Homo sapiens: one gene and its partners. The protein of the gene in region 1 purifies or fractionates together with the protein of each later gene. This does not show direct contact. Each region holds a gene or a part of one and is shown in the gene's direction. Other genes may lie near its edges. The genes, in order: HFE, GAS6, CNNM1, POMT1, SLC27A6, TMEM59L and CYB5D2.

Region 1 (5,201 bases):
CCTTCCTCGGCCGCCCAAAGTGCTGGGATTACAAGCGTGAGCCACTGAGCCGGGCCAATTTTTGCATTTTACATAGATGAATTATATGGTATGCTAATTATATCTTACCAAAAATTGAAAAAAAGGAATAGTACTATCAGCCCCAATGTGCCCATCATCAATATTCTACATGTTTCCAATGTTATTGTATCTGTTTGCCTACAGTCGAGGCCCTGATATCCTGTTTGATTTTCTTGAATTGCCAAAATTTGCATACATGCTTACAAAAATAATGCCTGTTGAATTTGCTAGATATGTAAAGGTTTGGAGCAAATCAGGTGTATTAAATTTATTAATATTGTTTGAAATGTCTAAGGCAATAATTCCCAAACTTCGTTGAGGGAGAAGGAAAGCTTTTAAAATCCCATTGCCCAGGTGGCATCCCATACTGTTACTGGGAATTATGCATTGGGATGGATCCTTTAACCGAGGAGATTATTATAGCCGGAGCTCTGAACCAGCAATCTCAGTTCTTGTGATAGTGAGCAAAGAACTACAAACTAACACCAAAATGCAAGCTTAAAGCAAAGTTTATTGAAGCACAATAATACACTCTGAGGGACAGCGGGCTTATTTCTGCGAAGTGAACTCAGCACTTCTTTACAGAGCTCAAGGTGCTTTTATGGGGTTTGTGGGGAGGAGTTGAGGTTTGGGCTGTATCTGAGTGACAGGATGATGTTATTTGATTGAAGTGTATAGCTATACAATCTAAAATTAAACTGTGCATGGTCTTACCTATAATTTGTTAAGAAAAGCCTCCCAGGGATGGGGGGGCAAAACTGTATGTAAATTCTATTATAATGATGGCATGATGAACTTGGGGTGAACTTGAAGACAGGCTTTTGTGTTGTTGGGCATGTGCCACCTTAGGGAATTTCCACCTGTACCCTCCTTTCTCTTTCTCCAGGATATTTTGGCCACAGACTTTATCATAAACTCCATCCCTTAGGGTGGCATTAGGGTAGTCTTGGGCCTGAATTTAGGTGGGCCAGTGGCTGTCTTAGTGACAGCCTTTCCGCTCTCTTCTGTCATCCCCTCCCAACTGCTAATGTCTAACTACCTAACAATTACCCATTAAATCAGTGTGTCTGGGGTTAGGAGCAGGCCTCAATATGTTTAATCATTCTCCAGATAATCCCAATACTGTAAAGTTTGTGAAACACTTGTCAGATAATTCAATTATGAAGGCTGTGGAAGGTGTTTCAGTAGGATCTAATTGGTTAATGTTATGACTTAATTAATTTGAATCAAAAAACAAAATGAAAAAGCTTTATATTTCTAAGTCAAATAAGACATAAGTTGGTCTAAGGTTGAGATAAAATTTTTAAATGTATGATTGAATTTTGAAAATCATAAATATTTAAATATCTAAAGTTCAGATCAGAACATTGCGAAGCTACTTTCCCCAATCAACAACACCCCTTCAGGATTTAAAAACCAAGGGGGACACTGGATCACCTAGTGTTTCACAAGCAGGTACCTTCTGCTGTAGGAGAGAGAGAACTAAAGTTCTGAAAGACCTGTTGCTTTTCACCAGGAAGTTTTACTGGGCATCTCCTGAGCCTAGGCAATAGCTGTAGGGTGACTTCTGGAGCCATCCCCGTTTCCCCGCCCCCCAAAAGAAGCGGAGATTTAACGGGGACGTGCGGCCAGAGCTGGGGAAATGGGCCCGCGAGCCAGGCCGGCGCTTCTCCTCCTGATGCTTTTGCAGACCGCGGTCCTGCAGGGGCGCTTGCTGCGTGAGTCCGAGGGCTGCGGGCGAACTAGGGGCGCGGCGGGGGTGGAAAAATCGAAACTAGCTTTTTCTTTGCGCTTGGGAGTTTGCTAACTTTGGAGGACCTGCTCAACCCTATCCGCAAGCCCCTCTCCCTACTTTCTGCGTCCAGACCCCGTGAGGGAGTGCCTACCACTGAACTGCAGATAGGGGTCCCTCGCCCCAGGACCTGCCCCCTCCCCCGGCTGTCCCGGCTCTGCGGAGTGACTTTTGGAACCGCCCACTCCCTTCCCCCAACTAGAATGCTTTTAAATAAATCTCGTAGTTCCTCACTTGAGCTGAGCTAAGCCTGGGGCTCCTTGAACCTGGAACTCGGGTTTATTTCCAATGTCAGCTGTGCAGTTTTTTCCCCAGTCATCTCCAAACAGGAAGTTCTTCCCTGAGTGCTTGCCGAGAAGGCTGAGCAAACCCACAGCAGGATCCGCACGGGGTTTCCACCTCAGAACGAATGCGTTGGGCGGTGGGGGCGCGAAAGAGTGGCGTTGGGGATCTGAATTCTTCACCATTCCACCCACTTTTGGTGAGACCTGGGGTGGAGGTCTCTAGGGTGGGAGGCTCCTGAGAGAGGCCTACCTCGGGCCTTTCCCCACTCTTGGCAATTGTTCTTTTGCCTGGAAAATTAAGTATATGTTAGTTTTGAACGTTTGAACTGAACAATTCTCTTTTCGGCTAGGCTTTATTGATTTGCAATGTGCTGTGTAATTAAGAGGCCTCTCTACAAAGTACTGATAATGAACATGTAAGCAATGCACTCACTTCTAAGTTACATTCATATCTGATCTTATTTGATTTTCACTAGGCATAGGGAGGTAGGAGCTAATAATACGTTTATTTTACTAGAAGTTAACTGGAATTCAGATTATATAACTCTTTTCAGGTTACAAAGAACATAAATAATCTGGTTTTCTGATGTTATTTCAAGTACTACAGCTGCTTCTAATCTTAGTTGACAGTGATTTTGCCCTGTAGTGTAGCACAGTGTTCTGTGGGTCACACGCCGGCCTCAGCACAGCACTTTGAGTTTTGGTACTACGTGTATCCACATTTTACACATGACAAGAATGAGGCATGGCACGGCCTGCTTCCTGGCAAATTTATTCAATGGTACACTGGGCTTTGGTGGCAGAGCTCATGTCTCCACTTCATAGCTATGATTCTTAAACATCACACTGCATTAGAGGTTGAATAATAAAATTTCATGTTGAGCAGAAATATTCATTGTTTACAAGTGTAAATGAGTCCCAGCCATGTGTTGCACTGTTCAAGCCCCAAGGGAGAGAGCAGGGAAACAAGTCTTTACCCTTTGATATTTTGCATTCTAGTGGGAGAGATGACAATAAGCAAATGAGCAGAAAGATATACAACATCAGGAAATCATGGGTGTTGTGAGAAGCAGAGAAGTCAGGGCAAGTCACTCTGGGGCTGACACTTGAGCAGAGACATGAAGGAAATAAGAATGATATTGACTGGGAGCAGTATTTCCCAGGCAAACTGAGTGGGCCTGGCAAGTTGGATTAAAAAGCGGGTTTTCTCAGCACTACTCATGTGTGTGTGTGTGGGGGGGGGGGGCGGCGTGGGGGTGGGAAGGGGGACTACCATCTGCATGTAGGATGTCTAGCAGTATCCTGTCCTCCCTACTCACTAGGTGCTAGGAGCACTCCCCCAGTCTTGACAACCAAAAATGTCTCTAAACTTTGCCACATGTCACCTAGTAGACAAACTCCTGGTTAAGAAGCTCGGGTTGAAAAAAATAAACAAGTAGTGCTGGGGAGTAGAGGCCAAGAAGTAGGTAATGGGCTCAGAAGAGGAGCCACAAACAAGGTTGTGCAGGCGCCTGTAGGCTGTGGTGTGAATTCTAGCCAAGGAGTAACAGTGATCTGTCACAGGCTTTTAAAAGATTGCTCTGGCTGCTATGTGGAAAGCAGAATGAAGGGAGCAACAGTAAAAGCAGGGAGCCCAGCCAGGAAGCTGTTACACAGTCCAGGCAAGAGGTAGTGGAGTGGGCTGGGTGGGAACAGAAAAGGGAGTGACAAACCATTGTCTCCTGAATATATTCTGAAGGAAGTTGCTGAAGGATTCTATGTTGTGTGAGAGAAAGAGAAGAATTGGCTGGGTGTAGTAGCTCATGCCAAGGAGGAGGCCAAGGAGAGCAGATTCCTGAGCTCAGGAGTTCAAGACCAGCCTGGGCAACACAGCAAAACCCCTTCTCTACAAAAAATACAAAAATTAGCTGGGTGTGGTGGCATGCACCTGTGATCCTAGCTACTCGGGAGGCTGAGGTGGAGGGTATTGCTTGAGCCCAGGAAGTTGAGGCTGCAGTGAGCCATGACTGTGCCACTGTACTTCAGCCTAGGTGACAGAGCAAGACCCTGTCTCCCCTGACCCCCTGAAAAAGAGAAGAGTTAAAGTTGACTTTGTTCTTTATTTTAATTTTATTGGCCTGAGCAGTGGGGTAATTGGCAATGCCATTTCTGAGATGGTGAAGGCAGAGGAAAGAGCAGTTTGGGGTAAATCAAGGATCTGCATTTGGACATGTTAAGTTTGAGATTCCAGTCAGGCTTCCAAGTGGTGAGGCCACATAGGCAGTTCAGTGTAAGAATTCAGGACCAAGGCTGGGCACGGTGGCTCACTTCTGTAATCCCAGCACTTTGGTGGCTGAGGCAGGTAGATCATTTGAGGTCAGGAGTTTGAGACAAGCTTGGCCAACATGGTGAAACCCCATGTCTACTAAAAATACAAAAATTAGCCTGGTGTGGTGGCGCACGCCTATAGTCCCAGGTTTTCAGGAGGCTTAGGTAGGAGAATCCCTTGAACCCAGGAGGTGCAGGTTGCAGTGAGCTGAGATTGTGCCACTGCACTCCAGCCTGGGTGATAGAGTGAGACTCTGTCTCAAAAAAAAAAAAAAAAAAAAAAAAAAAAACTGAAGGAATTATTCCTCAGGATTTGGGTCTAATTTGCCCTGAGCACCAACTCCTGAGTTCAACTACCATGGCTAGACACACCTTAACATTTTCTAGAATCCACCAGCTTTAGTGGAGTCTGTCTAATCATGAGTATTGGAATAGGATCTGGGGGCAGTGAGGGGGTGGCAGCCACGTGTGGCAGAGAAAAGCACACAAGGAAAGAGCACCCAGGACTGTCATATGGAAGAAAGACAGGACTGCAACTCACCCTTCACAAAATGAGGACCAGACACAGCTGATGGTATGAGTTGATGCAGGTGTGTGGAGCCTCAACATCCTGCTCCCCTCCTACTACACATGGTTAAGGCCTGTTGCTCTGTCTCCAGGTTCACACTCTCTGCACTACCTCTTCATGGGTGCCTCAGAGCAGGACCTTGGTCTTTCCTTGTTTGAAGCTTTGGGCTACGTGGATGACCAGCTGTTCG
Region 2 (4,484 bases), on another chromosome or scaffold:
TTCCTGCCGGCAGGTGGATGCTGGGGACAGCCTGGTTGGGGCAGGGGCAGGGGCAGGGTCCAGAGGCTGGCTTGAGTCCCAGCCGGCTCCAGCACACCAGGCCCACCCCTCCCAGGACCCTAGTCTCCACTGCATCCTCTGCCACACTCTTGGGAGACCCCAGGCCCGAGGGGACTGTCCAAGCACAACTTCCTGCTAATGCATGAAAATCATCCATGAACTTCTCCCTGTCAAAGGCCAGGGGCTCCTTGTCTTTGAAATGTTGCTCACTTTACATTTTGTGCAGTGCGGCTGATTGAGGAAAAGGGCTGTGGCCTGAGCTCAAGAGGTGACCAGGACCTGGCCATGGTGACTGTCAGAGCATCCTTGGGTCCCTGGCCTCCCCAGGCCCAGGATCCTGATGTGTGGTCCTCCACGGGTGGTTGTAGGGAAGGTGGTCCCAGCCCCCTGCCATTTTAGGATGTGGGAAGTGCCTGGCCGCCGTTAGTTAACACGCACCTACCCAGCCCTGGCTGTTTCCCCTGGGCAGGCTCCTACGAGGGAGGGAAGGGACAGCTGGAGCCAGCTCTCCAGTGTGCTCACCTTCATGTCCACCTGCTAAACTGCTAACCTGCCCGAAGTGTGTCCCACTGCCCCTTGCTGGGGCATCTTCCTGGTTGCGCCTTCTTCCCGGAAGCACCCGCTGTGCAGCCCTTCCAGCAGGCAGATACTAAGCCCGGCACCCCTCCCAGGCTCCAGGCTCACTTGTGTGCTAACCTCTGTGCCCACCTGGCCACCTGCTCACCTGCCTGAAGCGTGTCCCACTGCCCCAAGCTGGGGCTGCTTCCTGGTTGTGAGGGAAGTGCCTGCTCTGCAGACCCCCACCTTCCAGCAGGCGGATACTAAGCCCAGCACCCCTCCCAGGCTCTGGCCCTCCCCACACACCTGTGGTTTCAAGCCCTGTTCTGCTGGAAGGGACACTCCTCCCACCTCCCCAGCCCTCTCTGCTGGAGCCGTGCCCCTCCCCCGACATTCCTCCAGGCTGGGCCACCCCCACATGCCTCCTTGCTCTCCACCGCCCAGACCTTCTCCTTATCTTGTTTTCCTTTTTATATTGTTGTTCTCCCTCCCTGGCCTTGCCTCTCCCTGCTGGGTTCCTTGCCCGAGTTTCTAATTCAGAGAAGACTGGGTAACTCCCCACAGTGTCTCTGCTAAAGCTTCCCAGGCCCAGTGACTTTTTACTAAATCCTCGAAGGCCATCAGGTTCCAGGGCCTGCTGAGGTCTCCATAATCACCCCTTGATTCCAGAAATGATCCGAGACTAGAGACTTATCCCAGCCCAGCCCTACTGCCCAGGTCCTCCGGTGCCTGCCTGGGAGCCTGTTTGTGCACTTTGATCCCCGGCCTGCCTGCCGGAAAATCATCCAGGCTGTGGTTCCTGATCCCATCACCTGGCTTTATCTGAGATACAAAGCACAATATTCACCGAGGGCTGGTGGCCTTCCCTGAGGGTTGGCCTGGATTAGCAACCTGCACCTGTACCCGCACCTGCACGACATGTGGCCAGGCCTGTGCTCCGAGGCCAGGTTTCCCTTCCCCCATCTCTTTCTTTGTCTCCCTCTGTGTTTCTCTCTCTGTCCCAGTCTCTCTCTTCTCCCCACTGCTGGTGGTGAGGAATTCTCCGCATGGGATGTTGGTGCATCCGTTTTCAAACTTGCTGGCTCATCCTGAACTGCATGTGCCCTCCAAGCACCTTTTCCCTGACCTTGTGGATTCTTTGGGAACAGCTGGGGAAGGGGTACCCTTTATGGAAATGAAAACCCCTCTGAGTCCCCACTTGGGAACAGCCACTTGGCTGGGACACAGGCCCAGATGTTGGGATGGCCTAAAGGGAGGTCCCTGTTGGAGGGGAGGGCTGTACAATGTGGGGGCGCCTGGTGGGGAAGGTGATGGCCAGGCTGAGACCTCCCCTGCCCTGCCTTGACAGAGGCTGCAGCACACTCCCACACACAGACACATGCACACACATTCACACATGGACACCAGCACAGATAGGTGCTGACTCATGGATACAGGTGTGCAGGGACACACACACCCCTACCTAGACACATGCACACATGTACATATGTTCCCATAGACACAGATATACATGCACACACACAGGCACACACATACTAACAGACATGTACATACGTATGCACACATTCACATAGATATACGTACACACACACACTGACAGACATGCACACACATAAACAGGCACACACACATACTAACAGACATGTACACATACATGCACACATTCACATAGACATACGTACACACAGTCACACACTGTCCAGACATGCACATACAAGGCACACACATACTAACAGACATGTATACATACATGCACACATTCACATAGACATACAGTCACACAGACATGTACACATGCATAATGACATGCACACACATACTAACAGACATGTACACATACATGCACACATTCACATAGATGTACCTACACAGTCACACAGACATGCATACATAGGCACACACAGACATGTACACATACGTACACAGTCACACACACAGACATGCACACACAAAGGCACATACTAGCAGACATGTACACATACATGCACACATTCACATAGACATATGTAAGCACACAGCCACACACTGACAGACATGCACACACATACATGCACACATTCACATAGACATACGTACACACAGTCACACACTGTCCAGACATGCACATACAAGGCACACATACTAACAGACATGTATACATACATGCACACATTCATATAGACATACAGTCACACAGACATGTACACACATGCATGACACGCACACACATACTAACAGACATGTACACATACATGCACACATTCACATAGACTTACATAGTCATGTACACACATGCATAATGACACACATACTAACAGACATGTACACATACATGCACACATTCACATAGACATACATACAGTCACAGACATGTACACACATGCATAATGACACGCACACACATACTAACAGACATGTACACATACATGCACACATTCACATAGATGTACATACACAGTCACACACACAGACATGCATACATAGGCACACACAGACATGTACACATACAGTCACAAACACACAGACATGCATACATAGGCACACACAGACATGTACACATACGTACACAGTCACACACAGACATGCACACACAAAGGCACATACTAGCAGACGTACACAGACATGCACACATTCACATAGATGTACATAGTCACACACAGACATGCATACATAGGCACACAGACATGCACACACAAAGGCACATACTAGCAGACATGTACACATGCACACATTCACATAGACATATGTAAACACACAGTCACACACACTGACAGACATGCACACACATGCACACATTCACATAGACATACGTACACAGTCATACACTGACAGACATGTACACACATGCATAATATGCACACATGTACACACAGTCACATAAATAGACACATATACACACACAGGCACACATGGATGCCCAGCCACATGCATGCAGACACACACAGACACATGTGCACCCTCTCACACACTTTTCTCTTTCTACAACTTTGGGGTCAGAAGACCACTGACAGCTGCAGCAGGATCACTAAAAAGTGACACAAGGTCACGGGGCTCTGTGGCCCCAGCTTCCTCAGACCCCCAGGGTCTCTCCACTCCCAGAGCCCCCTGCCTGAGGGGCCGGAGCCCTGTGGCCAAGGCCTTTCCTCCTGGGCCCATCCTGAGGCCTGCAGGTGGACCCCGGCCCGGCCTCCTCTGAGGGCCGTCTTCCGTGCTGGCTCCGCAGCCCTCTCCTGTGCCCGCACCTGTGCAGATGCTTGTTTTCACCCGGGCGTCTGCAGGCACTTGGTGCCAGGCTCCTCCGGGGCTTTCTCAGAGGCAGCCGAGTGCCAGGCCCTGCACACGACACCCTCACCCGAGCCGGAGAGCTTCACATCTGTGGAAAACTCTAATTAAAGACGTTTTGAGAAACGCTGAACGTCTCCCTTTGTTATTTAGGAACAAAACACTCTTTTAGGAAGCAAGTGCTTATGGCTTCTTTCTTGAGATTCTGAGTAAAGGGGCGTTAAGCTTGCTAGCTGGGGCATGCTGAGCACTTCCCAGGTTATGGCTTTACCCCAGAGCGATTGACAGGCATCCAGGTTTCCTCATGCTTCATTTTCCCCTGTTTTCTAAGGTTAAAACTGAGAGCTGTTTCTCCAATGCAAAGCTGCTTGTTTAAGGGTTTCGTATTTGATGTTGGAAATGCTCTGGACTCTTCCATGGTTTTTATATTCCAGTGATTTCACTGCAAACCTGGTGTGTACGCCTTGTAAATTTTGACCCTGGCCAAGTGAAAGGTTCATTTTAAAAGTTTTAAAATAAATTTTAAAGGGGAGCTGGAAGTGGAATAAGTTAAGAACAGTATCAGTTTTGCCTTTCACTCTGACAGAGGCACTCTCTGCTCTGAC
Region 3 (5,201 bases), on another chromosome or scaffold:
CTGGTCTCTAACTCCTGGCCTCAAGAGATCCTCCCACTTCAGCCTACCAAGTAGTTAGGATTACTATATTTTAAAATGTAATACAGACTTATGATAAATTTACCCAAGAGAAATAAAAATTTATGTTCTCACAAAAACCATCACACAAATGTTCATAGCCACTTTATTAATAATTGCTAAAAACTGGAAATAACTTAAATATCCTTTATTGAATGGATAAACAAACAGTGACACATCCATATAATGGAATGCTACTCAGCCATACAAAAGGATGAACTACTGAAAATCACAACAACATAGATGAATCGTAAATGCATTATGCTAACTTAGTAAAGGAAGGGAGAACCCAAAAGGCTACAGACTGTATTCTCCATTTATATGATAATCCGGAAAAGAAAACTATAGGGGAGAACAGATCAGTAGTTCCCAGAGGATAAGACGAAGGGAGGGGTTGACTACATACAATAGGACGGTAAGAGAATTTGGGGGGTGGTGGTGATGGAATTACTTTTTATTGTGATGTTTACATGTATATGCATTTGTCAACATTCATAGAACAGTACACCAAAAAGTGAATTTTACTATATAAAGTTTAAAAATAAATGCATAAAAATAATATAGTCGAGTAAATTCAAACAATATAAGGAATTTAATAAGAAAGTCTCCCTCCCAGATCTTGGTGATAATAGATCTGTATTTTGAGTGCAGTGATGGTCACATACATCCATACATGTGATAAAATGATAGAGAACTATATACACACATTACACCAATATCAACTTCCTGCTTTTGATATTGTACTATAATTAAGATGTAACCCGCCAGGCACGGTGGCTCATGCCTGTAATCCCAGCACTTTGCGAGGCCGAGGCAGGCGGATCACCTGAGGTCAGGAGTTCGAGACCAGCCTGGCCAACGTGGTGAAACCCCGTCTCTACCAAAAAAAAAAAAAAAAAAAATTAGCCGGGCGTGATGGCGGGCGCCTGTAATCCCAGCTACTCAGGAGGCTGAGGTAGGAGAATCGCTTGAACCTGGAAAGCGGAGGTTGCAGTCAGCCGAGATCGCGCCATTGCACGTCAGCCTGGGTGACAAGAGCGAAACTCCGTCTCAAAATAAATAAATTAATTAAAAGATGTAAACGGCGGGTCGCGGTGGCTCACGCCTGTAATCCCAGCACCCTGGGAGGCCGAGGCAGATGGATCATTTGAAGTCAGGGATTCGAGACCAGCTTGGCCAACATGGTGAGACCCCATCTCTACTAAAAATATAAAAATTAGCTGGGCGCGGTGGCGCACGCCTGTAATCCCAGCTACTCAGGAGGCTGAGGTAGGAGAATCGCTTGAACCCGGGAGGTGGAGGTTGCAGTGAGCCAAAATTGTGCCACTGCACTCCACCCTGGGCGACAGAGCAAGACTCCATCTCAAAATAAATAAATAAATAAATAAATCTCATATAAGTGTGTGTGTGTGTACAAATTTATACATAAATACTTTTAACACAAATGGTAGCATATTATACTTGCTGTTCTGCACCTTACTTTGTTTCTACAATTACTTTGGAGATTTTTTTCCGTATCACATATACAACAGATCCACCGCATTATTTTTTATTGCCGCATAGTATTCCATTGCACAGTGGTTTCACTTATTTCAACAGTTTCTTATTGATGGACATTCGGATCTTAACTAAGAATTGAACTTAAATAATCCAGAAATGTTTACAATAATGAAAGGTCGGCTGGAGTTGAGGCTAAAAGTTTTCACATATTCAAGACTTGACTCCAGAATATTCTTTTGACCAGAAGGGGGAATGCAAGTGGCAGGAGAAGCGAAAAGCTGGGAAATTTCCCGGGCCAATGGGGAAGCAGTGGAGCCGGCAGGGAATTACTGCCGGGTAGGAGTTCGCAGAGGAGCACCTTACTTTTGGAGTAGGAGGCCATGCTGCAAACCCAGACTTTTCAGGCTGCATCTCAGATATACCGAAGTGTGTACCCGCTACGCACAGTGCGGTGATGCCTGGCCACCTCCAGCCTCCAGCGGGGACCTCCTGCCCAGGTGGAGTCTGAATGCCCACCGCCACCAGCCCACGCGCGCAGTGGGCGTACACGTGGTGACCTGCCTGCGGCTGGGTTCCCAGCTCCGGCTCCTCCTCCCTCCAGCTCTCGCTCGGCTTCCTGCAGTATCACGTGCAGCTGCGCTGGGTGCAGGATGGCGGCGGCCGCGGCGGCGGCAGCAGCGGTGGGTGTCAGGCTCCGGGACTGCTGCAGCCGAGGCGCTGTGCTCCTGCTCTTCTTTTCCCTGTCTCCTCGGCCCCCGGCCGCCGCCGCCTGGCTGCTGGGCCTGCGGCCCGAGGACACTGCTGGAGGCCGCGTGTCCCTGGAGGGGGGCACCCTGCGCGCCGCCGAAGGCACCAGCTTCCTCCTGCGTGTCTATTTCCAGCCAGGACCGCCGGCCACCGCCGCACCGGTGCCCTCACCGACCCTCAACTCGGGGGAGAATGGCACCGGCGACTGGGCTCCGCGGCTCGTGTTCATCGAGGAGCCCCCGGGCGGTGGCGGCGTGGCCCCCAGCGCGGTCCCCACTCGCCCCCCGGGACCGCAGCGCTGCAGGGAGCAGAGCGACTGGGCATCGGACGTGGAAGTCCTGGGGCCCTTGCGTCCCGGGGGCGTGGCAGGCTCGGCCCTGGTCCAGGTGCGAGTGCGGGAGCTGCGCAAGGGCGAAGCGGAGCGGGGCGGCGCGGGCGGTGGCGGGAAGCTCTTTTCACTCTGCGCCTGGGATGGGCGCGCGTGGCACCACCACGGCGCCGCCGGCGGCTTCCTGCTGCGCGTTCGCCCGCGGTTGTACGGCCCAGGCGGGGACCTGCTGCCCCCTGCGTGGCTGCGGGCGCTCGGGGCGCTCCTGCTGCTAGCCTTGTCGGCCCTGTTCAGCGGCCTGCGCCTGAGCCTGCTGTCGCTGGACCCGGTGGAGTTACGGGTGCTGCGGAACAGCGGCTCGGCCGCCGAGCAGGAGCAGGCGCGCCGCGTGCAGGCCGTTCGCGGCAGGGGGACCCATCTGCTCTGCACCCTACTCCTGGGCCAAGCCGGAGCCAACGCGGCCCTGGCTGGCTGGCTGTACACCTCGCTGCCGCCGGGCTTCGGGGGCACCGGGGAAGACTACAGCGAAGAGGGGATCCACTTCCCGTGGCTGCCGGCGCTCGTGTGCACCGGCGCGGTATTCCTGGGCGCCGAAATCTGCCCCTACTCAGTGTGTTCGCGGCACGGGCTGGCCATCGCCTCGCACAGCGTGTGCCTGACCCGGCTTCTGATGGCAGCCGCCTTCCCCGTGTGCTACCCGCTGGGCCGCCTGCTGGACTGGGCGCTGCGCCAGGAGATAAGCACCTTCTACACGCGGGAGAAGTTGCTGGAGACGTTGCGGGCCGCAGACCCCTACAGTGACCTGGTGAAGGAGGAGCTCAACATCATACAGGGTGCCCTGGAGCTGCGCACCAAAGTTGTGGAGGAGGTGCTGACCCCCCTGGGAGACTGCTTCATGCTGCGCTCAGACGCGGTGCTCGACTTCGCCACTGTCTCCGAGATCCTGCGCAGCGGCTACACTCGCATCCCAGTGTACGAGGGTGACCAGCGGCACAACATTGTGGACATTTTATTTGTCAAGGACTTGGCCTTCGTGGACCCCGACGACTGCACCCCGCTCCTCACTGTCACCCGCTTCTACAACCGGCCCCTGCATTGTGTTTTCAATGACACCCGACTGGACACGGTTCTGGAGGAGTTTAAGAAGGGTGAGCAGTAGTCTATCTTCTCCCCCAACTCCTATCCCCTTCAAAGGTATTATCCTTTCCTAACCACGTGAGGCTCTAGGTACCCAAAGCAATTTCTCTCCTATGGTACTAAAAACCCAAGGAAGACTCTACCTCTTGGCTCCCTGGCTATTTTCATCTCACTTCTGCCTCACTTCTTGCTCCTGATTGAGCCCCAGGCCTCTTTCCTCTCTACTTGATTCACAAGATGCACCATATTCCTTATTTGTTCCATTCTACCAGGTTTTTCCAAGGCCTACCAAATGTCAGATACTGTGTAGGTGGGAGATAGCCCTTGAAGGTCATTGCATAGCTCCCCACCTATTACAGGAGACACCTCTGCAGGTTCCCATACAAGCAGCCTTTGCTTTAAACTCCTCCCAGGGCCGAAAGCTCACTATTTACAGAGCAAACTAATTCCATTGCTGGACAGCTCCAGTGGCTGACAATGTTTCCTCATATAGAGCAGAATTTGTGTCTCCAAATCCTTCTACCTCTTCTGCCTTTTGAATCATGTAGACTAAACCCAGACACCTTAGACGTTCTTCCCCATACTTAATTTCCCATCAGGTATTGATTGCACACATATCAAGTACTCAGGTCCAGGGCCGGGCGCGGCGGCTCATGCTTCTAATCCCAGCACTTTGGGAAGCTGAGGCGGGAGGATTACTCGAGCCCAGGAGTTCAAAGCTGCAATGAGCTGTAATCCCACCACTGTACAAAAGAGCAAGACCCTGTCTTTGCCCGGGGGGGAGGGAAGTACTCAGGTTGGGGGTTAAAAGTTGACTAAGGCAGTAGGATCCTTGTAAGTCTGGGAACTGTGGTCCTGTGAAATAGGATAGATCTGGACCTGAAGAAATATTCTGGGTAGAGGAGATCCTAGAAAACTTGCATACCCAAATGAGTGGGGTTTCCTTCAGCGCAGTCACCATCTTCCAACTCTCCTCCCCAAACTCAAGCTTGATGTCATGCTTATAACATGTTTACTTCATGTCTGAGTTTGTCTTCAGAAAGTGCCTTCTGGTGACTACAAATTCACTCAAGAAAAATCAGCCTGGATACATTAGAGTCACCCCTCTTGGCATTACACAGTTTGACCGCCCCCCTAGTTCACCAGATTTGGCCCAGAACCCTTGATTGTTTTTTAAAATCAAATCTACTTTCAAGAGTCAACACTGAGAGCATTCAAAAGACTATCTCACAAACCCTGAAAGCAACACCAGACATCATAATTTGAAAACAGGGACATAATTAGAATAAGTGTAGAACTTCCCAGAATGACTCCTTTGAAGGAGGCATTCATCTGATATGAGTTGGAATGTTTATTAAAAACAAAAACCAAAAAAATCAATCCCTTGACTTCAGATTCAGCCTTCAGATATAGCTTCCTAATGGCTAGCAGT
Region 4 (3,175 bases), on another chromosome or scaffold:
TGGAGGAGCACCGATACGGCGCGAGTGAGTCCGCGGCGTGGCTTCCGCCGCTCCTGGAATGTACTTTCAGCTGCTCAATATTTGATAACACCCCAGAGTTCTCATTTTGGTGGGAAGGGAACTGAGCACATTCTCCATGCTCGGTGGCAGGTCATCTCCCTCCCTGCACCCTGCACTCAGCTGCTGCAGTAATAACTCAAGACGCTTCTTCCGAGGTGTCGCTGGAAGGCAACCAGTTTATCCCCGTGCAAGTGGAGCTTTCTCAGGGTCGAAATCACCTCATTTGACCGGGCAGTCTTGGGTGTGGTGGGGAAAGCTAAGTGGAATGATGCGGTTCGATAAGGGGTCTTTGTTAGAAAGGCAGGAAGCCAGCTTTTTGCTGCACTGACAGCTTCTGCTCTGAGCTCTTGACCTTGTGCTACTTCTATCTGTTATGCCCTTGTCTGTTCTGCCAGGCCAGGAGCAGAGGGAGCGGGAACGGGAGCTGCACTCACCTGCGCAGGTGGACGTCAGCAGGAACCTCAGCTTCATGGCGAGATTCTCGGAGCTGCAGGTGAGGAGCGGCCAGGGGAAGCTGGCCTAGCTCGCTGAGCATTGACTCCTCAGCAGGGAGGCCTGGGGGCTGCACAGGACTCAAACCAGAGTCAGGCTTTGACGCTGGAGCTACAGGCTCACAACAGAATGAGTGTCTCCTCTCTCCAGTGTAAGGGACTGTGTGTGACACCCCTGGCCCACACCTTGTGGCCCTGTGGTCAGGAATAATAGGGACCCAGGAGGTTCTGCAACATCGCCAGGGTGTCTTAAGGCCCCCAGGCAGCGAAATGGGCCACACTCAACAGAGCCCAAGAGAAGTCACAATCAGAAACTCACGGTCACAAATCTGAACGTGACCTTAGAGAGCATTCAGCCCAATCACTTCGTCTACAGAGGAGGTAACTGGAGCACATAGGGTGGGGCGACCCTCCCAAGGCCACATTCAGGGCTGGAATCCAGGTTCTCATCATGCTGCCTCCGATGCATGATCCGAATGAACTTGAGCTGGGCCAGTCCACGTGCAAGGGGCAGCAGTGTACTCCTTTGACCAAATCCACGCACAGCGGGAGGCATCCCCCATCCTCAATCTCAGAGGCCTCTGCTTTGTTCCAGTGGAGGATGCTGGCGCTGAGAAGTGATGACTCGGAACACAAGTACAGCTCCAGCCCACTGGAGTGGGTCACCCTGGACACCAATATTGCCTACTGGCTGCACCCCAGGACCAGCGTAAGCGAGCGATGCTGACAGCTGACAGTCATAGATTCATCCTGTTTCTTGAGAATTCCTTGCATTAAGAGCAGCCGCTGCACCCTAGAAAGTGCTGGGTTTCTCCCAAGCTTTTCCTGACAAAGGCCTGTGACTTGGTTTTCTCTAAACGCTTTGGCAACCTGGAGCCAGGAGTAGGGGTGTGGCATGTGTGCCTGTTGAAGGAAACCCGGCTTGATTGCTTTTGTGGAGACACATTGTTCCCCTTTTCCTGGCGAAAGTGGTTTTAAGATATTCCCATTCAATTTTCCGTGTGGCACCTGGTGGTGGAGCTTACCGGTGCTTTGCTGATGTGCGTGCCGTCTCTCCACCCGGCAGAGTGAAAGCATTGGTAGGCCGGGCGCACAGTCAGCGCCCCATAAATATTCACTGAATGGGCAGACGCTGGAAATGCCCACCTTTTTCCTCCTCCCTCAGAGGCGGGTAGGTCGGCTCAGCATGTGCACTGAAGGCAGAGGCTCAGGCCCAGAGGCCGCCCCACCCCGAGCTCTGAGCGCACTTTGCATTCTCCTCCGTGGACAGCGCTGCTGTTACAAAGTGGAGTCATCTGCTCCCAATTTTCAGTTTCCAATTACAAAATTGAGAGCATCAGTGCTGTGTGTGTGTGTGTATGTGAGAGAGAAAGAGAGAGACGGAGTCTTGCTCTGTCATCCAGGCTGGAGTACAGTGGCGTGATCTTGGCTCACTGCAACCTCCACCTCCCAGGTTCAAGCAGTTCTCCTGCCTCAGCCTCCAAGTAGCTGGTATTACAGGTGCCCACCGCAATGCCCAGCTAATTTTTGTACTTTTTAATAGAGACGGGGTTTCGCCACGTTGGGCAGGCTGGTCTCAAACTCCTGACTTCAGGTGATCTGCCCACCTCAGCTTCCCAAAGTGCTGGGATTACAGGCATGTGCCACCACACCCGGCTGGCATCAGTGCTTTTAATGAAAGGTCTGAGTAGGAGCAGACCTGTCCACAGTAGTAGTAAGGCCTAGTGGATGCTAGGCTGTGCCTGGCGTTTTTTCACTCTGCTAAAGTAGTGCGTGCATCTGAATTCCTTTCCTGTGTTCTCTTCTCTTCCCTCCCTGAGCAGAGGGCAGGTGGCTAACAGCATCTCCCATGTTCCCTTAGGCTCAGATCCACCTACTTGGAAACATAGTGATCTGGGTTTCGGGCAGCCTCGCTCTGGCCATCTACGCCCTGCTGTCCTTGTGGTACCTGCTCCGACGGCGAAGAAATGTCCATGACCTCCCTCAGGGTTAGTACCTCTCCCACATGGCTTTCTTTCTTTTTAATATAGACATGGGGTCTTGCTGTGTTGTCCAGGGTGTTCTTGAACTCCTGGGCTTAAGCGATCCTCCTGCCTCGGCCTCCCATAGTGCTAGGATTACAGGTGTGCGCTGAGCATTCACCGCCTCAAGTGACAAACCGACTTCATAGGAACCTACCCCTTAACGCGGCCTCTTTGTTTCTGTATTGTGGAATCTTAAATTATGTTTGTCTCCCAAGAGACAAAATGTTAAGTTCCCATGTTGCGTTAGAGGTGTCTCCAGTCGAGTGCAGCGTATTGGGCAGGAATTGCCCTCTTGGTCCCATGTTGCCCGTATGCGCTGGAAATGGCTGGGTAACACAGGCAGCCAGGCCGGGCGCGGTGGCTTACACCTGTAATCCCAGCACTTTGGGAGGCCAAAGTGAGGGAGTCACCTGAGGCCAGGAGTTCAAAACCAGCCTGGGCAACATAGTAAGAACCCTCTCTCTAAAAAAGCAAAAGAGAGAGAAGACCCGGCCTGTGGGAGCAGCAGAGTCGGTGTAGCTCGAGCCCTTTCCTATAGATGCCTGGCTGCGCTGGGTGCTGGCTGGGGCGCTGTGTGCCGGTGGCTGGGCAGTGAACTAC
Region 5 (4,484 bases), on another chromosome or scaffold:
CTGATCTCCTGTATACAGACATCCCTTGGTATCCTTGGGGGATTGGTTCCAGGACCCCGGGTAGACACCAAAATTCATGGATGTTTGCTCCTTATATAAAATGATACAGTATTTGCCTATGAGGTGTGCACATCCTCCTGTATACTTTAAACAGGTTGCTTATAATACATAATACAATGTAAATGCTACATAAATAGGGTCGTATGGTATTTTTTATTTATATTTTTTATTGTTTTATTATTATTTTATCTTTTTTACCAAATATTTTCTATCCAAGGTTGGTTGAATCCACAGATGTGAAACCATGGATATGGAGGGCCCACTGTGATTATTAGTGAATTTAAAAAGGAGAGGATGACTAGGTCCACTGTATAATTTAACTTTGGAATTTTAATGCAGGTGGAACAATTTTACTATTAAATGTTAAGAGCCCTAGAGGGATCACTCAGATGGTAAATTATTAAAATACAAAAGTGGTAACTATTTGGCTCATACTATTCTTAATCCACCACTTGTAGTATGAACAGTGGCAAATTTCTAATGTCCTATATTGCCAAACTATAATATAGAAATTAGTGAATTAATTTATCACTCTAGATATAATGTAAAGTCAGGCCAACTTGGATTTAAACGTGGTCTCTGACACTTAGAAATGGTGCAACTTTAGACAGATTACTCAACCTAAGTCTTATTTTCTTCATATGTAAAGTAGAAGTGACAATGTTTATTAAGTGAGGTTATTGTGGACGATTAAATGGGATGTATATATATTCCTGGGGGACCTGGTATGTGGCTTGTTACTTTCCTCTCCTCAGCTTCTCCCTCTCACTCCCCTCCCTTCTCTACCAAGGTAGACTTTCTTACAATTTTAGGTTAGAAATTTTCATGAAAGCAAGTACTTCAATTAACTTGCTGCTGCATATAATCAAATTAGAAAATAAAATATAGAGATGTGCACTTAGAATTGTTTAGAGATCCAGTATGGATAAATCAAGCCAAAATTAATTTGTATTGCCTTAAAATATGTTGAAACTGCATTTCAGAAGTGGCTTCCTAAATCTTTTCTTCAAATGTGAAGATAAGGTGACAAACCTGTTTTTATTTTCTGGTAGCTGAAAGACTAAAATAAAAAATGCAAACTTTGTCTATTAAAAAACAAATCTCCCAAATCTCTGAATTTCAAGCCTACTGGCATTTATCAAATATGTTTCTCCAATTCTAATCTGTAGACACTGCCCATGGGAAAATAATTTCTGAGCAGAGTGCAAAGAACTTAAGTGCACTTTTCTACTGTTCTATTTCTTACAATTATAGTAATATCTGATGTTAAAACTTGAATCCCAGAACTGTGCTTATGTAACCTCAGGGTTTCTTAAAAAGCTGGTTGACCCCAAATATCTGTTTTTCTATTTTGGAATTCTCATTATGAGCTACTCAATATTTTTTCCATTAAGGCATTGTGTCTTCACAATGTAAATTATGCCCAGACAGGAAAGATATGAATACACTGTGACCTATTTAAACATTTGCAACAATTAGTTTGTCAGAAAAGAAACTGTCACCTGTGTCCTAAAAAAGAAAAAAAAACGTAAGTTTTAAGGGAGATATAAGAGTCTTGAAAAATTCTGAAATACAGGGAATGTAGACTGACAGAATATATCACAGAGGTAAGGCTTTGGAGTCAGATGTACCTGGATATATATATATATATACTCCGACTCCTGCATTTGACAGCTGTATGACATTGGGCAAATTCCTTTTTTTACGCCTCAGTTTTTTCACCTTAAAATGAAGATATTATCTGGGCCTTTCTTATAGGTTTGTGATGAGAATTAAATGGATTACATATGTAAAACACTCAGAATCATGACTATTATGCAAAAAGTGCTCAATAGGTATAATTGTGATGATAATGATGGTGATGATGATGATATGATGGTGTTGGTGATATGATGATATGATGGTGATGATATGATGATGATGATGATGATGATGCTATCAGACTGCTGGGGCAGAGAAGATTTGCTTTGGCCAGTGACCTATGTGCCCTTGAAAGCCAGAATGCCCAGGAGTGGGAGAAATGGGAGTCGAGTAAAGACTGTTGGCTGGGTGCGGTGGCTCACGCCAGTAATCCCAACACTTTTGGAGGCTGAGGTGGGAGGATGGCTTAAGCCCAAGAGTTCTAGATCAGCTGGGCAACCTGGTGAGACCTCGTGTCTACAAAAAAATTACAAAATTAGCTGGGCCTAGTGGCATGCATCTGCAGCCCAGCTACTTGGGAAGTTGAGGTGGGAGGATCGGTTGAGTCTGGGAAGTCAAGGCTGTGGTGGACCATGATCATGCCACTTCACTCCAGCCTGGGTCACAGAGTGAGAGTTATTTTTTTTAAGAGCATTAAAAAGACAGAAATCACTCTGTATCATAGTTTGCTGGACTCCAACTTCATCTAGCCGCATGAACACTGCATCACTTTACAGCAGGCATAGCAAGTGGACAATAGCCTTGAAGACTTCCAGAGCAGTGATTGCTGCTGTCCTTTGTCCTCTCGTCTTCTCTTAGAAGTAGCTTTTACCTTGCAGATTGCTGAGAAAAACCTTAATTAATTTGAATAAGTTTGATTGGAAAATTATTTCAGATAATGTGTCTAAACATAACTGAAACTAATAAGTATCATAGAATAGGAAACCTTTTCAATGTCTCATCTCTTTCCCATCAAAAATTTCCAGAATAGCATCCCAGAGGAATAAACTGTTTTATTATAATAACATGTGTGTTGGATCAGAGATAGTATTATACAGAAACCTTGCCACACAAAGTCATAAAAACTTGAATTTGAGTTATAGGTCCATTTATTTCTCTGAGCGTGGCAACTATTTTACCCCTCTCGGTCCTAGTTCCTTGCTGGTGAAATAGGGATTATATCAAAGGATTTCTATGCAGAATAAGCAAAGTGGCATTTGCAAAGGGCTCATGGTAAATGCCCAATAAAAAATGCTATCATTATTTTATTAACACTATCACTACATTTGTTATTTATATAACAAATGTCAATATTATCTGTGGTAACATCTACATAATCCAAAACAAAAATAGCCGTTGGTCTATCCACCTGGGAAGTATAAGAAATCTAATGAGGCTTTTCTTTCCATTCAATTCCCTTTTTATTAGTTTTTCCAAAGTAATTTGTATTTGTGGTAATCTATGAAAGGATGTGCTGGATATAGGCACCAAGGGTAAATGATGTCAAATACAGAAATAGGTTCAGAGGAAGCTGAGATAAGCAGCATTGGTTGTGCTGGCCAGATATAATATAGATACATTCATGGTGTGTGTAACAATAGTTTTAATCAGATGGCTGCAAAAATGTCGTTCTTTCTTGCAGGAGAACCTGGACTTCTCATTTCTCGAGTGAATGCAAAAAATCCCTTCTTTGGCTATGCTGGGCCTTATAAGCACACAAAAGACAAATTGCTTTGTGATGTTTTTAAGAAGGGAGATGTTTACCTTAATACTGGAGACTTAATAGTCCAGGATCAGGACAATTTCCTTTATTTTTGGGACCGTACTGGAGACACTTTCAGGTATGAAATGTTATGGGATCCATAGCTTGTTCTGTAATTGTGAACCATGCTTCTATAGAAACATCAGAGACCACATATGCTTTAGCTTTCAGGGCAGACAGAGCCCTTTTATCTCCATGTCTCCTCATTAAAACATTTATTGGCCATCTGTTTCTAGACTGAACCACAAGTTAAATTTTGATGTAAAGTTTTATGATTATTTTAGTGAATCAGTTTAGAACAAATCAGTGAGCTCCTTTTTAAGGAAATAAAACTGGCAGACAGATGTAAAATATAAATGGTAGGGTTAAAACAGAAAGCCAGTTTGGTCAACTGTAGTCTAATTCTTGGCCTAATGATAAAAATTTTGAAGCAGCAAAAATCCCCTTTCTCACATTTCCTTTTTTAATTCCCTAAGATTATTTTAGGCCTATGAAATTATTTTGCTTTACTAGTCCAATGACTTGAATGAATAAGTAACTTCCTACATCCTTGCCTTCTTGTACCATGTTATAAGCTCACTTTATATAAAATTATTTCAATTAAAACAAAATATTCATTCAAAAGCATTAAAGGAGTCAAAGGGGGTTAACACCTAGAAATTTAAGTGGGTCAGAGTCAAAGGGGTTAACACCTAGAAACTGAAGTGGGTCAGTGTCCTAAAAGACAACTAGAGCTTTGCTTTCAATTCTTAACACCAGAGAAAAGGAATGTTTCACACTTCATTGTTATTTTACAAAATAATATTTTTGTAATGATAATCCTTGTAGTTATTTTATTTTTATGTATATTATAAAACATAGAAGGTAATTTATACAATGAGATATAAAGTAATTTTGACTAAAAGACCAATGCTGATTTTGTTGAAATACCAACAAAGTGCTTTCTTAGAAATGCCTTTCATCTTGAAAACTACAATTATGT
Region 6 (3,819 bases), on another chromosome or scaffold:
TGTTAGTTTATTTATTCATTTATTTATTTGAGATGGAGTCTCACTCTTTCACCCAGGCTAGAGTTCAGTGGTGTGATCTTGGCTCACTGCAACCTCTGCCTCCTGGGTTCAAGCAAATCTCCTGCCTCAGCCTCTGGAGTAGCTGAGATTCCAGGCGTGCGCCATCATGCCTGGCTAATTTTTGTATTTTTAGTAGAGACAGGGTTTCACGATGTTGTCCAGGCTGGTCTCAAACTTCTGGCCTCAAGTGATCGGCCTGCCTCAGCCTTCCAAAGTGTTGGGATTACAGGCGTGAGCCACCACATCCTGCCCCCTCCCATTCATTGGTTAATGCCCTATTTCGGTGCCATCTTTGTGTCTTGGACCTTTTTTCACCAGAGAAAGGTCCTGGAGGCTCCAAGTGGGGCCCTCTCCCTCTTGGACTTGTTTTCCACCCTCTGCAATGACCTTGTCAACTCAGCCCAGGGATTTGTCTCCTCCACCTGGACATACTACTTGCAGACTGACAATGGGAAAGTGGTGGTGTTTCAGGTGAGACCTCTGACAGGGGCCACGCCAGAGTGGCAGATGGGTGGGCAGGGTAAGAAGATGGGATGCATTGGCTCTTAGCTCATGAGATGCAAAGTCCACAGTGGGCGAGCTTCAGGCACAGCTGGATCCAGGGGCTCAGTGTCTCACTCCATGCCTTGACTCTGCTTTCTTTTGTGGTGGCTTCATTCCCAGGCATTTACTTCTTCTTGGCAGTAAGGTGGATGCCAGAGGCTCTAGGTTACAAACGCTGTGGTTTTTTTTTGTTGTTGTTGTTGTTGTTTTGAGATGGACTCCCATTCTTGTTGCCCAAGATGGAGTGCAATGGCATGATCTTAGCTCACTGCAACCTCCACCTCCCAGGTTCAAGTGATTCTCCTGCTTCAGCCTCCTGAGTAGCTGGGATTACAGGCGGCCACCACCACACCCACCTAATTTTTGTATTTTTAGTGGAGACGGGGTTTCGCCATGTTGGCCAGGCTGGTCTCGAACTCCTGACCTCAGGTGTTTCACCTGCCTCGGCCTCCCAAAGTGCTGGGATTACAGGCATGAGCCACTGCCCCGGCTCCCTCTGGGGTTTTAACTGAGCTGGGATTTACTCTGATTGGCCCTGGCTGGATCATATGACCATCTCTCAGGCAATTCACTGGCTTGGTCTGGATCATGTTCCTACTTCTGGAGCTAAAGGATGGGGTTAAGGCAAATGGAGGAGCCCATGAAAGCAGAAAACAACATCCCTGACATCAAGCCCACCCCTGATACCCAGGGGAACTGGGTATCAGCTGGGCGTGGGACATGGCAGTCACAGAGGGCCTGCCTGGGCCCAGGGGTGCTGTTCTCACAAGCCTCTCTGTGCTGTCTTGTTCCTGGCCCAGACTCAGCCCATAGTGGAGAGCCTCGGCTTCCAGGGGGGCCGTCTGCAGCGCGTGGAGGTGACCTGGCGAGGCTCCCACCCTGAAGCCCTGGAGGTGCACGTGGGTAAGGTGCAACCTAGACCAGTGTTCCTTCCATGGGTGGCCCCACTGCCACAAGGAGTCGGCCTGGCAAACAGACCTTCTAGGATCGGGATCTCCATCTCTCAAGTCCTGGGTTCCATGGCTCATCCCCCAGGTCTCCATGGTCTATTTCCCAGGGTTCCATGGTCCACCTCCCAGGGTTCCATGGTCCACTTCTCAGGGTTCCGTGGTCTACTTCCCAGGGTTCCGTGGTCCATCTCCCCGGGTTCCATGGTCTATTTACCAGGGATCCGTGGTCCACCTCTCAGGGTTCCGTGGCCCACCTCCCGGGTTCCGTGGCCACCTCCCAGGGTTCCGTGTTCCGCCTCCCAGCGTTCTGTGGTCCACCTCCCAGGGATCCATGGTTCACTTTCCAGGGTTCTGTGGCCCATCTCCCTGGGTTCTGTGGCCCATCTCCCAGGGTTCCATGGTTCATCTCTCAGAGTTCCATGGGTTCATCTCCTAGGGTCATCTCCTAGGGTCCATCTCCAAGGGTTCTTTGGTCCATCTCTCAGGGTTCCATGGTTCATCTCTTAGGATTCTGCAGTTCATCTCCCAGGGTTCTGTGGCCCATCCCCCAGGGTTCTGCAGTCCATCTCCCAGGGTTCCATGGTCCATTTCCCAGGGTTCCATGTTCCATCTCCCAGGGTTCCATGTTCCATCTCCCAGGGTTCCATGGGTTCATCTCCTAAGGGTCATCTCCTAGGATCCATCTCCCAGGGTTCCATGGGTTCATCTTCTAGGGTCATCTCCTAGGGTCCATCTCCTAGAGTTCTTTGGTCTATCTCTCAGGGTTCCATGGTTCATCTCCTAGGATTCTGCAGTTCACCCCCAGGGTTGCATGGTTCATCTCCTAGGATCCATCTCCCAGGGTTCCATGGTCCCTGTCTCAGCATTCTGTGGTCCATCTCCCAGGGCTCTGATCTCCATTCCAGGACTCTATGCCCCAGGTCCTGACCTCCTCCCTCCTGGTCATGGTTATTGTGGCCTCTTAGCAAAGACCTGGTGGTCGCTGAGTGGCAGCTGATCTCTCAGACCCTGTAGGCCCCCTGGACAAGGTGAGGAAGGCCAAGATCCGAGTCAAGACCAGCAGCAAGGCCAAGGTGGAGTCTGAAGAGCCACAGGACAATGACTTCCTCAGTTGCATGTCCCGGTGGGTGGCAGGACCTTGGGGGTGGGAGGGGGGTGGGACTGGAGGTACGGGTCTCCCTGGTCCCGGCCTGGGCAGCTGAGTGGTGCCTGCCGGGCGGGGCAGGCGCTCGGGTCTGCCTCGCTGGATCCTGGCCTGCTGCCTCTTCCTCTCCGTGCTGGTGATGCTGTGGCTGAGCTGCTCCACCCTGGTGACCGCGCCTGGCCAGCACCTCAAGTTCCAGGTGGGTGGGATCTGTGAATGGCGCTGGGCCGAGGGAGGGGGTGAAGGCAGAGAGAGCTGTTTGCTGGTCCTGGATTTGGCCACCTGCTCCCATGGAGGCCAGGACCTCAGACATTTTTTTCTTTTTTCATGTATATACATATATATACATATACGTGTGTGTGTGTGTGTGTGTGTGTGTGTATATATATATATATAATATATATATATATATTTTTTTTGAGATGGAGTCTTGCTCTGTCACCTGGGCTGGAGTGCAATGGCACCATCTCGGCTCACTGCAACCTCCACCTCCTGGGTTCAAGCAATTCTCCTGCCTCAGCCTCCGAAGTAGCTGGGACTATGGGCGCGGGCCACCACACCCAGCTAATTTTTGTATTTTTAGTAGAGACGGTGTTTCACCATGTTGGCCAGGCTGGTCTTGAACTCCTGACCTCAGGTGATCCATCCGCCTCTGCCTCCCAAAGTGCTGGGATTACAGGCGTGACCCACCGCGCCCGGCCTATATATATATTTTTGAGACAGGATCTCACTCTTTCACCCAGGATGGAGTGCAGTGGCATGATCACAGCTCACTGCAGCCTCGGCCTCCCTGGCTCAAGCAATCCTCCTGCCTCAGCCTCCTGAGTAGCTGGGACCACAGTCACGTGCCACCATGCCCCGCTAATTTTTGTATTTTTTGTAGAGATGGGGACTATGTTGCCCAGGCTGGTCTTGAACTCCTGGGCTCAAGTGATCCACCTGCCTTGCCCTCCCAGAATACCGGGATTACAGGCATGAGCCACCTCACCCAGCCAGGACCTCACACTTGCTGCATGACTTGGGCCAGTTTCTTCACTGCCCTTTGAATTGGTGGGAAGAAAATCCACTCTTAGTTGGGGCGACATGAAGTCAGAGGTGGCCACACTTCTGTGGTGTTGGCCT
Region 7 (4,484 bases), on another chromosome or scaffold:
CTCAAACCCCTGGGCTCAAGCAGTCCTCCTTATTCAGCTTCTTGAGGAGCTGGGATTATGAGCATTAGCCACCACGCCCAGCCAGTGTGAACATTTTGATCTTGTGATATCTGTAAGACGTCTAAGTGTTGTTGGATATACAGGTGTGAGCCTTGGGAGACATCTGAGCTAAAGATACAGATGTGGCTATCTTTGCCTGTAGGTGGGCTTTGAAACCACAGGTGTGGATGAGATTGTCAAGTGTGAGGGTGTGGACAGTAATTGACCCCTAAGGCTGGTAGACAGTGAGGAGCTGGAGAAGTAGGAGGAAAATCAGGCCAAGGGAAGTGGTCAGCTGTGTTAAAGTTTGCCGAAGGTAAAAGAAAGAATATGACCAATGCCAAAGAGATGTGTGTCCAAGGTCTAGGAGCATCTTTCACAGAGGAGGTGGTGGGGACCCCATTTCCCTGGGGATAAGGAGTAGGGCTTGTCAAGAGACGTTTCTCAGAAAGCAGTTTCTGGCCAGGCGTGGTGGCTCACACCTATAATCCCAGCACTTTGGGAGGCCAAGGTGGGCGGATCACCTGAGGTCAGGACAAGCCTGGCCACCATGGTGAAACCCCATCTCTACTAAAAAAATACAAAAATTAGCCAGGCGTGGTGGCGGGCGCCTGTAATCCCCGCTACTCTGGAGGCTGAAGCAGGAGAATGGCTTGAAAGCGGAAGGCAGAGGTTGCAGTGAGCTGAAATCATGCCACTGCACTCCAGCCTGGGCAACAGAGTGCGACTCCGTCTCAAAAAAAAAAGAAAAAGAAAGAAAACAGATTCTTGAGTGGGGATGGTGTCAGTGGTTTACACCTGGGTCTGATGGAAACATCTCTGTTCCAGGCCGAGACGCATCCAGAGCTTTCGTGACCGGGGACTGTTCTGAAGCAGGCCTCGTGGATGACGTATCCGACCTGTCAGCCGCTGAGATGCTGACACTTCACAATTGGCTTTCATTCTATGAGAAGAATTATGTGTGTGTTGGTAAGTCGTCCATAGGTCATACATTTCATTTGGTTGTCTGCAGTGTTTTTAGGGGGCTGAGATTTTTTAGGGATTGGGTTCAAGCTTAAAATCTGAAAAACAGCCATGGATTTGTTTTACTTTAAATTCTGGTCGTTAGAATAGGGATGAGCCGCCCAGAAGGAGATGGATGGGCACCTGCTTCCCCCACTCTTAGTCTTGGGAGAGGATTACTAAGCTGCTTGCTTTGGCCTCAGTTTCGCCATAGCCAGTGGTTGCTTGCACCATCCTTGAACAACCAGCTCCAGAAGGGCAGCTTCCCTGTCTCACTGTGTTCGATGCATCTGGCTTCAGCACACAGCCAGAAGGGCTTGAAGCCTGAATTTGTGTTTCGACAAATCCCCTTTTATTTGGTCCTCTAGGAGGAGACAAACTTCGTGAGTGAGCTGTCTCCCAGGTGGTAGTTATGCTAATCAAACCACTGTGTAGGTTACTGCACTTGCTACTTACTGATGCTACATAAGGGACTTGCTTCTCAAATGAGACAACACCAAACTGTGTCCTAAAGCAGTGTTAAAGACTCTAAACACTAGGCCCGGCGCAGTGGCTCACGACTGTAATACCAGCACTTTGGGAGGCTGAGGCGGTTGGATCACTTGAGGTCAGGAGTTCAAGACCAGCCTGGCCAACATGGTGAAACCCTGTCTCTACTAAAAAATACAAAAATTACCTGGGCGTGGTGGCACGCACCTGTACTCCCAGCTACTCAGGAGGCTGAGGCAGGAGAATCGCTTCAGCCCGGGAGATGGAGGTTGCAGTGACCTGAGATTGCGCTACTGCACTCCAGCCTCAACGAAAGACACTAAACACTAGATTGCTTCACAAGTACTGACAACTGGGATGGCCGTAGCCCTTTCTTCTATCTATCTGCAGCCCCCACGTCTCACTGGAGTCCTACTTGGACATGACTGACTTCCTGAGGAACACCAGTATCACTTCACCATCGAAACAGGTCTAACTTGGAAGAATTCTTTCCTTAATGCCTCTGAATTTCTGCTTCTGTCATCACTGCTTGAGTTACCTTTTCTGAGAACCTTGGCATTTTTATTAACACCTCAGCTCCCTCCACATCCAATCAATCATGGCTTTTTCATAATATCTAAAGTTTGTGTCCATCCATTGTGGGCCTCTGCAGCACGCCTTTCTTCATTTTCTCTCGTATGCCCAAGATCAGTCTTGAGACCATAACCCTGTCTACCATCGAAGGCACTGACCTCTACTCACCTGCGCTTCAGAGGGCTGGGTTCTTCCCTTTCCCAATGAAGTTGCCAAACCAAGGTTGAAACATTACTGGGTTAATAAAGAAAAGAAAACCCAATAGAAAAGAATAAGAGCCAGGAGTGGTCTCTCACACCTGTAATCCTAACACTTTGGGAGGCCGAGGTGGGCGGATCACCACCTGAGGTCAGGAGTTCAAGACCAGCCTGGCCAACATGGTGAAACCCTGTCTCTATTAAAATACAAAAATTAGCCGGGCATGATGGCAGGTGCCTGTAATCCCAGCTACTCAGGAGGCTGAGACGGGAGAATTGCTTAAACCTGGAAGACGGAGGTTGCAGTGAGCCAAGATCGCACCACTACACTCCAGCCTGGGTGGCTGAGTGAGACTCTGTCTCAAAAAAAAAGAAAAAAAAGAAAAAGAATAAGAATGGAGTCCAGACCGGTGGCTCATGCCTGTAATCCCAGCACTTTGGGAGGCTGAGGTGGTCGGATCAGTTGAGGTCAGGAGTTCAAGACCAGCCTGACCAACATGGCAAAACCATGTCTCTACTATAAATACAAAAAATTAGCTGGGTGTGGTGGGACACACCTGTAATCCCAGCTACTCAGGAGGCTGAAGCATGAGAATCACTTGAACCTGGAAGGCAGAGGTTGCGATAAGCCGAGATCACATCACTGCATTCCAGCCTGGGCAACGGAGTGAGACCCTGTCTCAAAAAAAAAAAAAAAAGAACAGAGTCCTGTAAATGGGCAAAGAATGCCAGGCCAAATACTTCATACTAAGATTTGGGAGCACACTGGAAGTGTTCGGATGCGTTTGGTGTGACAAGTGAGCTGGTCTTGTTTGAATGATGTATAATGTGTTGAGGATGGGGTGGGGCATGTGGCGGGAAATGCCTCAGAAGGATTTTAGTTGATGTCAGGATCTTATTGAATACCTACTACTCATAAGTTACGGGTTCCATCCTCAGGGGGACCAGGGATGAATTGAGTCCAGTTCCTGCCCCTGTTAGCTCATTCTGTAGGATAGGGGCCATGTTAGGCTCTTTCAGGTTACCAGAAACCCTCAGGATACATCAGTGGATGAAGGTTTATTGTAAGGGTACATACTGAAGTGAGGACAGCCAGGAAGCCATCTTGGCAGCCAACATGGCCAGGCCTCAAGGGAAAACAAGATGGCCTTGGTTATGCTGTGGATACAGGATTGGCTTGGAGATGCAGCCACTGGTGATCACCATTCTCATGACACAGATTCTAGAACTCTTCCTCTGTTGCCTCTGCTACTACTGTCCTCTCTTTGGGTCTCATGTCAGAAACTCACCAAAGACAGGCTTGTCACCATATAACACAGACACCCCAACCCCCGTAGTGGGAAATTCTGTGCCAGGCCAACTCATAGACTGCAGGCCTGTGACTCGGGCCCTGATTCCTTTCTTTATTCATCTAATAAGTATTTAAAATGAATGCTCTATGCTAAGCTGTTTTATTTATTTATATATTTTTTCAGATGGAGTCTTGCTTTGTCACCCAGGCTGGAGTGCAGTGGCACGACTGCAGCTCACTGCAACCTCCAACTTCTAGGTTCAAGCAGTTCTCCTGCCTCAGCCTCCTGGGTAGCTGGGATTACAGGCATGCACCACCACGCCCAGCAAATTTTTGTATTTTTAGTAGAGACAGGGTTTCACCATGTTGGCCTGGCTGGTCTCGAACCCCTGACCTCAAGTGATCTGCCCGCCTCAGCCTCCCAAAGTGCTGGGATTACAGGTGTGAGCCGCTGCGCCTGGCGCTAAGCTGTTCTGAGTACTGCGCCTCACTAGTAGAGAGAGCCATCATAGACAAGTAAACAGATTGAACAACTCCACATAGGACCATGCATCAAACTGTGATGTAATACGTTTGGGAGCTTTGGCTCCTTTAGAGCACATGCTCAGGAGTGGCTTCTTGGAGAAAATGACCGTTAAGCTGAGACCGGCAGGTGAGTGGGAGGCAGCCACACCGAGACCTGAGGAGAGTGTGCTGGGTCAGGGAAGAGCGGTGCGAAGGTGGGGAGTGGGGAAGCACAGCCAAGACACAGAAAGGAAGCCAGTGTGCTGGAGCCCCCCGTGAACGAGGGGGGACGTAGCTTGTAAGAGGCTGAAGAAGCAAATCAGTTAAATGGTTACAGGGCCTTAGAGGCCTTGATAAGAAATTTGCATTTTTGTCTGCTTTAAGAAGCC

What was found.
Region 2: the proteins of HFE (region 1) and GAS6 purify together in Homo sapiens (affinity purification with mass spectrometry; one large-scale study listed by BioGRID and IntAct). This does not show direct contact.
Region 3: the proteins of HFE (region 1) and CNNM1 purify together in Homo sapiens (affinity purification with mass spectrometry; one large-scale study listed by BioGRID and IntAct). This does not show direct contact.
Region 4: the proteins of HFE (region 1) and POMT1 purify together in Homo sapiens (affinity purification with mass spectrometry; one large-scale study listed by BioGRID and IntAct). This does not show direct contact.
Region 5: the proteins of HFE (region 1) and SLC27A6 purify together in Homo sapiens (affinity purification with mass spectrometry; one large-scale study listed by BioGRID and IntAct). This does not show direct contact.
Region 6: the proteins of HFE (region 1) and TMEM59L purify together in Homo sapiens (affinity purification with mass spectrometry; one large-scale study listed by BioGRID and IntAct). This does not show direct contact.
Region 7: the proteins of HFE (region 1) and CYB5D2 purify together in Homo sapiens (affinity purification with mass spectrometry; one large-scale study listed by BioGRID and IntAct). This does not show direct contact.

The regions. Positions count from the first base shown.
Region 1 is NC_000006.12:26,085,739-26,090,939, forward strand, and holds the start of HFE (hereditary hemochromatosis protein isoform 1 precursor), read left to right. Parts: upstream 1-1,690; 5' UTR 1,691-1,702; coding exon 1,703-1,778; exon of another isoform or gene 1,779-2,424; intron 2,425-4,984; exon of another isoform or gene 4,985-5,102; coding exon 5,103-5,201. UniProt on the Homo sapiens protein: Binds to transferrin receptor (TFR) and reduces its affinity for iron-loaded transferrin.
Region 2 is NC_000013.11:113,857,270-113,861,753, reverse strand, and holds part of GAS6 (growth arrest-specific protein 6 precursor), read left to right. Parts: intron 1-4,484. UniProt on the Homo sapiens protein: Ligand for tyrosine-protein kinase receptors AXL, TYRO3 and MER whose signaling is implicated in cell growth and survival, cell adhesion and cell migration.
Region 3 is NC_000010.11:99,327,181-99,332,381, forward strand, and holds the start of CNNM1 (metal transporter CNNM1), read left to right. Parts: upstream 1-2,175; 5' UTR 2,176-2,207; coding exon 2,208-3,780; intron 3,781-5,201. UniProt on the Homo sapiens protein: Probable metal transporter.
Region 4 is NC_000009.12:131,518,934-131,522,108, forward strand, and holds part of POMT1 (protein O-mannosyl-transferase 1), read left to right. Parts: coding exon 1-24; intron 25-455; coding exon 456-553; intron 554-1,146; coding exon 1,147-1,260; intron 1,261-2,412; coding exon 2,413-2,539; intron 2,540-3,113; coding exon 3,114-3,175. UniProt on the Homo sapiens protein: Transfers mannosyl residues to the hydroxyl group of serine or threonine residues. Coexpression of both POMT1 and POMT2 is necessary for enzyme activity, expression of either POMT1 or POMT2 alone is insufficient.
Region 5 is NC_000005.10:129,023,751-129,028,234, forward strand, and holds part of SLC27A6 (long-chain fatty acid transport protein 6), read left to right. Parts: intron 1-3,382; coding exon 3,383-3,581; intron 3,582-4,484. UniProt on the Homo sapiens protein: Mediates the import of long-chain fatty acids (LCFA) into the cell by facilitating their transport at the plasma membrane.
Region 6 is NC_000019.10:18,615,597-18,619,415, forward strand, and holds part of TMEM59L (transmembrane protein 59-like precursor), read left to right. Parts: intron 1-378; coding exon 379-531; intron 532-1,403; coding exon 1,404-1,506; intron 1,507-2,558; coding exon 2,559-2,676; intron 2,677-2,778; coding exon 2,779-2,896; intron 2,897-3,819. UniProt on the Homo sapiens protein: Modulates the O-glycosylation and complex N-glycosylation steps occurring during the Golgi maturation of APP. Inhibits APP transport to the cell surface and further shedding.
Region 7 is NC_000017.11:4,149,024-4,153,507, forward strand, and holds part of CYB5D2 (neuferricin isoform 1 precursor), read left to right. Parts: intron 1-867; coding exon 868-1,008; intron 1,009-4,484. UniProt on the Homo sapiens protein: Heme-binding protein which promotes neuronal but not astrocyte differentiation.